2 linked regions of the Homo sapiens genome follow. The protein of the gene in region 1 purifies or fractionates together with the protein of each later gene. This does not show direct contact. Each region holds a gene or a part of one and is shown on either strand. Other genes may lie near its edges. The genes, in order: PSD2 and NMT2.

The links.
Region 2: the proteins of PSD2 (region 1) and NMT2 purify together in Homo sapiens (affinity purification with mass spectrometry; one large-scale study listed by BioGRID and IntAct). This does not show direct contact.

Annotation. Positions count from the first base shown.
Region 1 is NC_000005.10:139,802,304-139,806,115, reverse strand, and holds part of PSD2 (PH and SEC7 domain-containing protein 2), read right to left. Parts: intron 1-3,812.
Region 2 is NC_000010.11:15,134,044-15,137,855, reverse strand, and holds part of NMT2 (glycylpeptide N-tetradecanoyltransferase 2), read left to right. Parts: exon of another isoform or gene 1-2,437; coding exon 2,438-2,582; intron 2,583-3,812.

The sequences.
Region 1 (3,812 bases):
TTGGAATGACCTTGGGCTCGGCAGCCTCTTTTCAACACCAGCTAAGGTAGGTCCTATAATGATAGTGGAACCCTGGCTCAGCCAACTGCCAGGGCTGAGTGCAGAGTCAAGCACTTCCTGGGTCTCAGCTCTCCTGAGCAACTCTGTCCCCCTCCTCACTCTCCCTGTGGCAGCTGGAGGGAGTTGCAAAAGCACAATCCTTCCTCCCTCCTCATAATCCTCTAACCATCTCCCCTAGATTAGAATCCAGTCTCCCCAGCATGGCCTGAAAAGGTCCTGCAGGAGCTGGTTCTGCTGCCCTCTACCCCATGTCCCCATGCTCTCCCACATCAGCCACAGTGGCCTTCTTTCCGCTCCCTGAGTTCATTCCCACCTCAGGGCCTTTGCACCAGCTATACCCGTGGCCTAGAATGCTCTTTCCCTAGATCTTTAAAAGAGCTTCTTCTGCCACTCAGGGCTCAACTCCAACACTGCCTCCTGAGAAAGGCCCTCTCTGACCCCTGGCACTGCATCATGGAGTGATGGAGCACCATAGCACTCAGTAGAACTGAAGCTCCCTTTTCTATGTGTTTACTGATTCCCTGCCTATCTCTGTACTAGGATGTAAGTTCAGTGAGGGTGGGGACTATGTCATGTTCACGGCTGTGTCCCCAGAGTCCAGTGCAATGCTTGGCACACAGCAGGCCTTTAGAAGTATTTGTTAGATGAATAACAGGGATTATCATCATGCCTATTTGTGGCAGAGGCTAAGAGAGATTGAGGAACTGCTCGGAGTCACAAAGCTGGAAAGCAGCAAGGCTGAGATTCTGATGGAATGCTAGATTGTCAAAGAAATAATCTTACGGTCCCTTTTATGGTGGGATCCAAGCCAGGGACTGTGGGAAACCCAAGGGCAGGGCTGGAGGTGGGGCCCACCAGGGAGGGCTCCAGAGGCCAGCATGCTCTATAAGACACAGGGGCAAGTGCATGGGTGCAGGACCTGACAGCAGACATACAATACAGGTATGGGTAGGCACATGCACACATGTACACATGCCCAGACACACGCGCACGTGCACACACACATGCGCACACACATGCACAATACACACACACGCACACACTCACACACACACAGAGACACACACATGCACACACGCACGCACACACGCACACATACACACGCACACGTGCAGACACATGCACACACACGTTCACAGACATGCACACACGCACGCACACACACATGCACACAGACACACACACACGCACACACACAGAGGGAACTGGGCAGCCGCTCATGAGGCAATCCCCCTAATTTGCCTGGTAAGGTGGACAAGGCACTGGCAGGCCTATGGGCAAGGTTAAGGGCAGCGAGATCTACATCATCGGGCATCCAGGGTCAAAACCATCCTGGGTATGCAGAAGGGACTGGGATCAGAGAAAATTGTTCTGGAATGTCAGTGTGGTGGCAAGGCTGAGACCACAGCTGACCCAGGGAAGCAAATCTAGGAGCACCAGGACCCTCACGTTTTGCTTCCAGTGGGCTAGGGGAAGTTGGGCACAAAAAAACCCCTCTCTGACCTCATGTCCCCACGTGCACCATTGATACCTAACCAGTTCCAAGTCCTGGACCTCTTTGTGCACTTGATGGAAGATCCTGCCCTGGAAATCTCACAAATGTGTGCAACATTTAGAGTATATCTGGAAAGGCTCAAAGCCCTCTATCCATCCTTGATTCCATACCCTAATCTGGACAGTCTCCAAGGACCTGCCAACCAACATTGGATACTTGGAGAGAGCTCCATGAGGGTTACTTGGCAAAGAAATCTTTCTTGGACCTATTCTCTGCCCCCTGGAAACCCACCCTGAACACCCCCACTGGTTCACTACTCTTCCCCAAAATCCCAACCCAAGATTCCCTAGATCACCCAGATTTTAGCACATGGGCTAGGATCTTCAGACACACAAACACATGTGAACACACATGAACACACAAGACACACACAGACACTTAAAAGAGATGATCAATGCAAACATGTGGCATGTAGGGAGTGTCAAAACAGACCCTGAACAGCGATGCCCACACCGCAATGGGGCCTAGGATGGCCAGGCCTGGAGTGCTCCAGGGCTCCACAGGACCTGCTAGGCCACTGGCAGCATGGGCAGTAGGGTGCTGCCAGGAAGCCCTCAGTTGGGCCCCCCTAACCATGCTCCCTTGTAGCCTCTGCCAACCAAGGGGCCTGGAGTTAAGGATCTTCCCACCTCCAAGAGCTCCAGGCCCCCTCCCTAAGCCCAGGCCAGCCTCCTCCACATCCCAACTGCCCAGGGAGATGCCCAGGATAATTTGGAAGGGACGCCCACCCAGGAGCCTAGGGAACTTCCCGGATTCCACATCCCAAAGTGACCCTAAACCCTCTTAACCCACTTGGTCTTCCCAGCTTGGACCGCCTTGTGCTGCAAGGGCCTCAGACTGGGACAGTCCGGGAGAGTGGGTCAGTGCCCTTTCCTGTGTGCTCAGAAAGACCTGGCTCCAAATCCAAGCTCTGCTAGCCACAAGCTGTGTGACTTCAGGAAAACTGCCTGTCTATCTGAGCTCGGTGTCCTCCTCCATAAATGGGGGGTGCCAAGAGCATTTGTCTTCTCAAGGCACCTGTGAGGACTAAAGGAGATGGCATGTGTTCAGTGCTCAAGGGAGGGCTGCTGCCTCCCAAAACCTTCTGGGGGCTGCAAGGAACCAAGCTGGCTACCCCCAGGGGTGCCATGCCCAGGACAGCAGCACACAGCACAGGCCACTCAGCCAGCACCCATTGGATATGCGTCCTTGGCAGCTGTCAGAGCAAGTTCTGAGGCAGGGGCTTCAGAAGCCCAGCTAGAGGGTAGAGGCAAATCAAAGACTCCCGTGGGGCCAGGAGGGGGGCCAGAGAGGGCATCCCCTCCCTTTCCCAAGGCAGCTGAGGTCCCTACTGTCCTGCCCTCCCAACACCCTCACCCAAGGCCAGGCTCACTCCTATCTTTCCATCTCAGGGCACACAAGTGTAGGGCAAGGGCCAAGAACCTACGCCCTCTTTAAAGATGCCCATCCCTTTCAGGTAATGCCTGTTTGGAGTGATAACCAGCCCCCACCTGCTTTCCTTCTCTCAGTGTGGCCATCAGGGAACCAGCCCTTGCCTTGGGCTCATGTTCTCATGGTCAGGCAGGCAGAAGTCCCCGGGGCTGCATGCACATTTGCATCTTATCCTGCATGTGCTCTGCTGGGATTCTCAGGGGCCCTTGGAGCTTGCTCCACAAAGGTCATTCCTAGACATCTCCCAGCTTGCTTCTCTCCCCAACCCCCCAGCCAATTGGCACCCTCATTTGCTTAGCATTTGCGTACATCTGCATGCTGGTTGAAGAGCCCTTAACACTAATGAAATCCACAAAGTCTGCTGTCAAATTTCAAATCATGTTTACAGCTGGTGACTCTATGCCCAACTGACTTCCCTACGGGGTGAACCCTCAGTTATCAGGAACCACAAAGGACTAAGCTGTCTTGGTCAAGAGAGTTCACAGCCAGACTGACCACTGGGCCACCTTCCTCCAACTTCGGAGGGCACTGGACTCACACTGCTTCAACCCACAGGCTCATGGAGCCCACAGGCTAACATGAGCCTGTGGGTTGAGAGTTGAATCCTGAGAGCTACAATGGACTGACCAAGTGCAAATCCTCCCAACCAGCCCAGCCTCGGATACAACACCTGGGCAGAGGCAGACCTGAGAGAGCTCCACCTCTGAGTAGCTCCCCACAGTCTGCTTCAACAGCCAAGAGACAGAAACCAAGAAGCTTCCTCCTC
Region 2 (3,812 bases), on another chromosome or scaffold:
TCATTTTGGTCATTGGGTCATGTGGAACAAAGATGCTGATTCATGTCTGTTGCAAAATAGTTTGAGTTTGATATATTACTGTTAGAAGATTTAACTCAGAAACCAGGAAAGAAATCAAGGAACAAAAAATTAAATCAAGAAAGAAAAAGTACCATGACAAATTCATTATAGTCATTGTAGTTCTATTTTTATAAGACTGGGCTCTACTTTGCCATTTTAAGCTAAACTGATGCACAGTTAAGCATTATTAGTTGAAATATGCTGTGATCTCAATTCCTATTTAAATTGTAAGGTCTTCTAATAGATGGTGTTGTTGGAGTTCAGATACACATGAATTTCATTTTGCTAGAAATTTGCTCCTTTTAATGTTGGGGACTTAAAAGACACCCAAGGAAAAGAAGTCATCCAAAGATATAATAATGAGAACCGGAAAAGTATTTTGTTAAATTTGTATGTGTCATTAAGATAGGACCTTTATGATTTTGATGTTAAACAAATGTAAGATAAACAGCTTACAAAAACTGTGGCCATCTTGGATTGTGCTGTGAGACTTCCAAGCAGAGACAAAAAGACTTTCACCTGCCTCCAGCTGGACTTCAGAACTTCGTTTCCTTAGGGTTCTTGACAGTGTTTGTATGAAACAAACCCTGTTCTGTGCTGTGTACGATGAGTAAGCTTCCCAAGTTAAAATTATTGCTCCACACCACAGATTTCAGATTCCAAGTGGAACAGAAGTCCAAAGTTGCTGTTTATAAACTTCTAAGGGTCGATTGTACCTTTCAATGGTGTCCACCCTGTGTTGACATACAGCAAAACCGAAGGGCTCTTGAAACTTCTAACCACTTTCTGAATTACAGCGAAGAATATTCTTTGCATGGTATCAAAGTTCTACAATGTCTCAGTAATTTTACATATTGAAAAAAGTCATTGATTTCCATATTCAGTCCTCTGCGCTGTCTTCTCATTTCAAGTAGTCTCATGTTCCATGTATTATTACGTTATTTGAGGAATTAAAAAAAAAAAAAAAAGAACTGGGGAATCTCCAAGAGCTGGCGGGAATATTGGCTTTGAGAAAGGAACCTTAGAATTCAAACGTAATGTTTTACCTAAAAAGGAGTCCAGTTTCCAACACTTGGGCTGGGAACGACAGGCTATGGTTGCCCAGGATCTGAAGTACAGAGGAAATTGCTTGTCCTTCTGGTGGGAGAGTTTGTCTCTAGAGGATCAGGAGGATCAGGAGGGTCAGGAGAAGGGCAGGGTGTGGCCGGGAGGAAGGGGCATGGTTAGAGATTTCTTTTCTTGATCATTTTCATCCCAGTTCAGCACTGAGTTCAGATTTCCCTTCCTTCCTTCCTTCCTTCCATCTGTCCTTCCTTCCTCCTTTCCTCCCTCTCTCCCTCCCTCCTCCCCCTGTCCCTCTCCTTCCTCCTTCCTCCCTCTCCCTCTCTGTCTCTCCCCCCTACCTTCCTTCCTTCCTTCCTCCCTCGCTCCCTCCCTCCTTTTTTCTTTTCTTTTCTTTCTCTCTGTCTCTCTCCCTTTCTCTTTCTCTCTCCTTCTCTCTCTCTCCCTCCTTTCCCTTCCCTTCCCTTCCCTTTCCCTTCCCTTCCCTTCCTTTCCCTTTCCCTTTCCCTTTCCTGACAGAGTCTTGCTCTTGTCACCCAGGCTGGAGTGCAATGGCGCGATCTCAGCTCACTGCAACCTCCACCTCCCAGGTTCAAGCGATTCTCCCTCCTCAGCCTCCCGAGTAGCTGGGATTACCTGCCATCATGCCTGGCTAATTTTTGTATTGTTGTAAAGACAAGGTTTCACCGTGTTGGCCAGGCTGGTCTCTTAACTCCTGACCTCACGTGATCTGCCCACCTCGGCCTCCCAAAGTGCTGGGATTATAGGCGTGAGACACCACTGCCGATCCTCTCTCTTTCTTTCTCTCTCTCTTTCTCTTTCTTTGTTTTCTCTCTCTCTCTTCTTTCCCTCCCCTCCCCTTCCCTTCCCTTCTCTGCTGTGTTTCCATTCTAGAAGTTCTTTCCTTCATCCCCTCGTTGCTCCTGCAGAGCATTTACTCTGACAGTGCCCCCCACCCAAGGCTCGTGGCTGCCTGGCTGTTGGATGACAGTAATGCATGCACTGCACGTCTCCCCCAGAGGAGTAATGCCGGGGACCATTTGTAGATGGATGGGAAACTGAAGCAAAGCGTGCTTCAATTTAGATTCCCCAAACTGCCAGAGCCCCAATAAAACTAGACAACTGTTGTTACCTTTAACAGAGGGTTTGCTTCTATTTTCATGTGTAACACACAAGCCCATGGCCTTGACTGGGCTTGGAGGAGGATTGTTAGTGTTTAGGTATTGTAGTCTCTGAGGCAGATGCACGTGCGTCTGCTCAAGTTTAACATCAGCAGCCGCTCTCTCATATTCTGTGTCTGTCTTTGCTGTCGTAGAATCCCAGTGTTCCAATGCAGAAGTTGCAGGATATCCAGAGAGCAATGGAGCTGCTATCCGCATGCCAGGGCCCAGCCAGGAACATTGATGAGGCTGCAAAGCACAGATACCAGTTTTGGGACACACAACCGGTACCAAAACTAGGTAAGTTTTTCTGCTTTTCTCTTTTTTTCCCCACAAACAAAGCTGGATGAACAACAACAACAACAACAACAACAACAACAAAACACAAAGAGTGTTAACTTCACATGTATCATTTATTTCATACCACAGATTGGAAATCTATGCAAGACTAATATTTTTCTTCTGAAAATATAAATATTAGATAGTGACATTGGCTTTTGATAACCATTATTTTAGTCCAATTTCTATCCCAATAAAAACATCCAATTTCCCCACACTTGAAACATTACTAGTATTATTATTATTTTTGAGATAGGGTCTCACTCTATCACCCAGGCTGGAGTGCAGTGGCATGATCATAGCTCACTGCAGCCTCCACCTCCTGGGCTCAAGTGATCCATCCTCCCATGTCAGCCTCCCATGTATCTGGGACCACAAGTGCACACCACCACACCTGGCTAATTTTTGTATTTTTTTGTAAAGACGCTGTTTCAGTATGTTGCTTGGGCTGGTCTCGAACTCCTGGGCTCAAGTGATCCACCTGCCTTGGCCTCCCAAAGTGCTGGGTTACAGGTGTGAGCCACCGCACCTAGCCCATTAGAGTATTAAAAATGTATATAAGGTTCTGTGATGGAAGGACCAGGCCCTGAAGGTCCCTCATGGAGCAGGTGTCTGTTGAGTGTCTGTTATTAAATGCCAGGCATAGTCCAGGGCACACACCTGGAAACAGTGGTGGAAAAGTAGGACAAAAGGTGGCCAGGCTGGGGAGGAGCGGCCACACTGAGGTAGAGAAAGGCTTTAGTTAAGCAACAGATGCTGGGAGAAAGTGACGTGTGATGCGTAAGCTTCTGTCGGGAATTCCAAGGGGCCCGTCCCTTGAGGACCAGAGGGCCTCAAGCCTAAGGAAGGCACCAGGAAGGCCCTGAGCTGAGGCCTGCCCCGGTCATCATGGCCAGAGCACTGGGAGCAGGGGGCAGGGAGGGTGTGGAGAGGGGCCGAGGCAGGCAGCAGCCATGGGGAAGAGCCTGGGTTTTAGTCCTACCATGTTGGGAAGCTCTGCAGAGAAGGACTTGGAAAACTCTTCTTGGTGGAAATCACTAGAAATTGTGATGGCCTGAACTACGCTGCTAGCAGTTTAGATGGGGAGAAGTAACCAGCCTTGAAATTATTTTTAGGTTTTGCTGGGAGGGGCAGAGGTCACCGCAGCCCTTTCCTCTCCCAGTTTGTGGAAATGCAGTAAAAAGAACACAC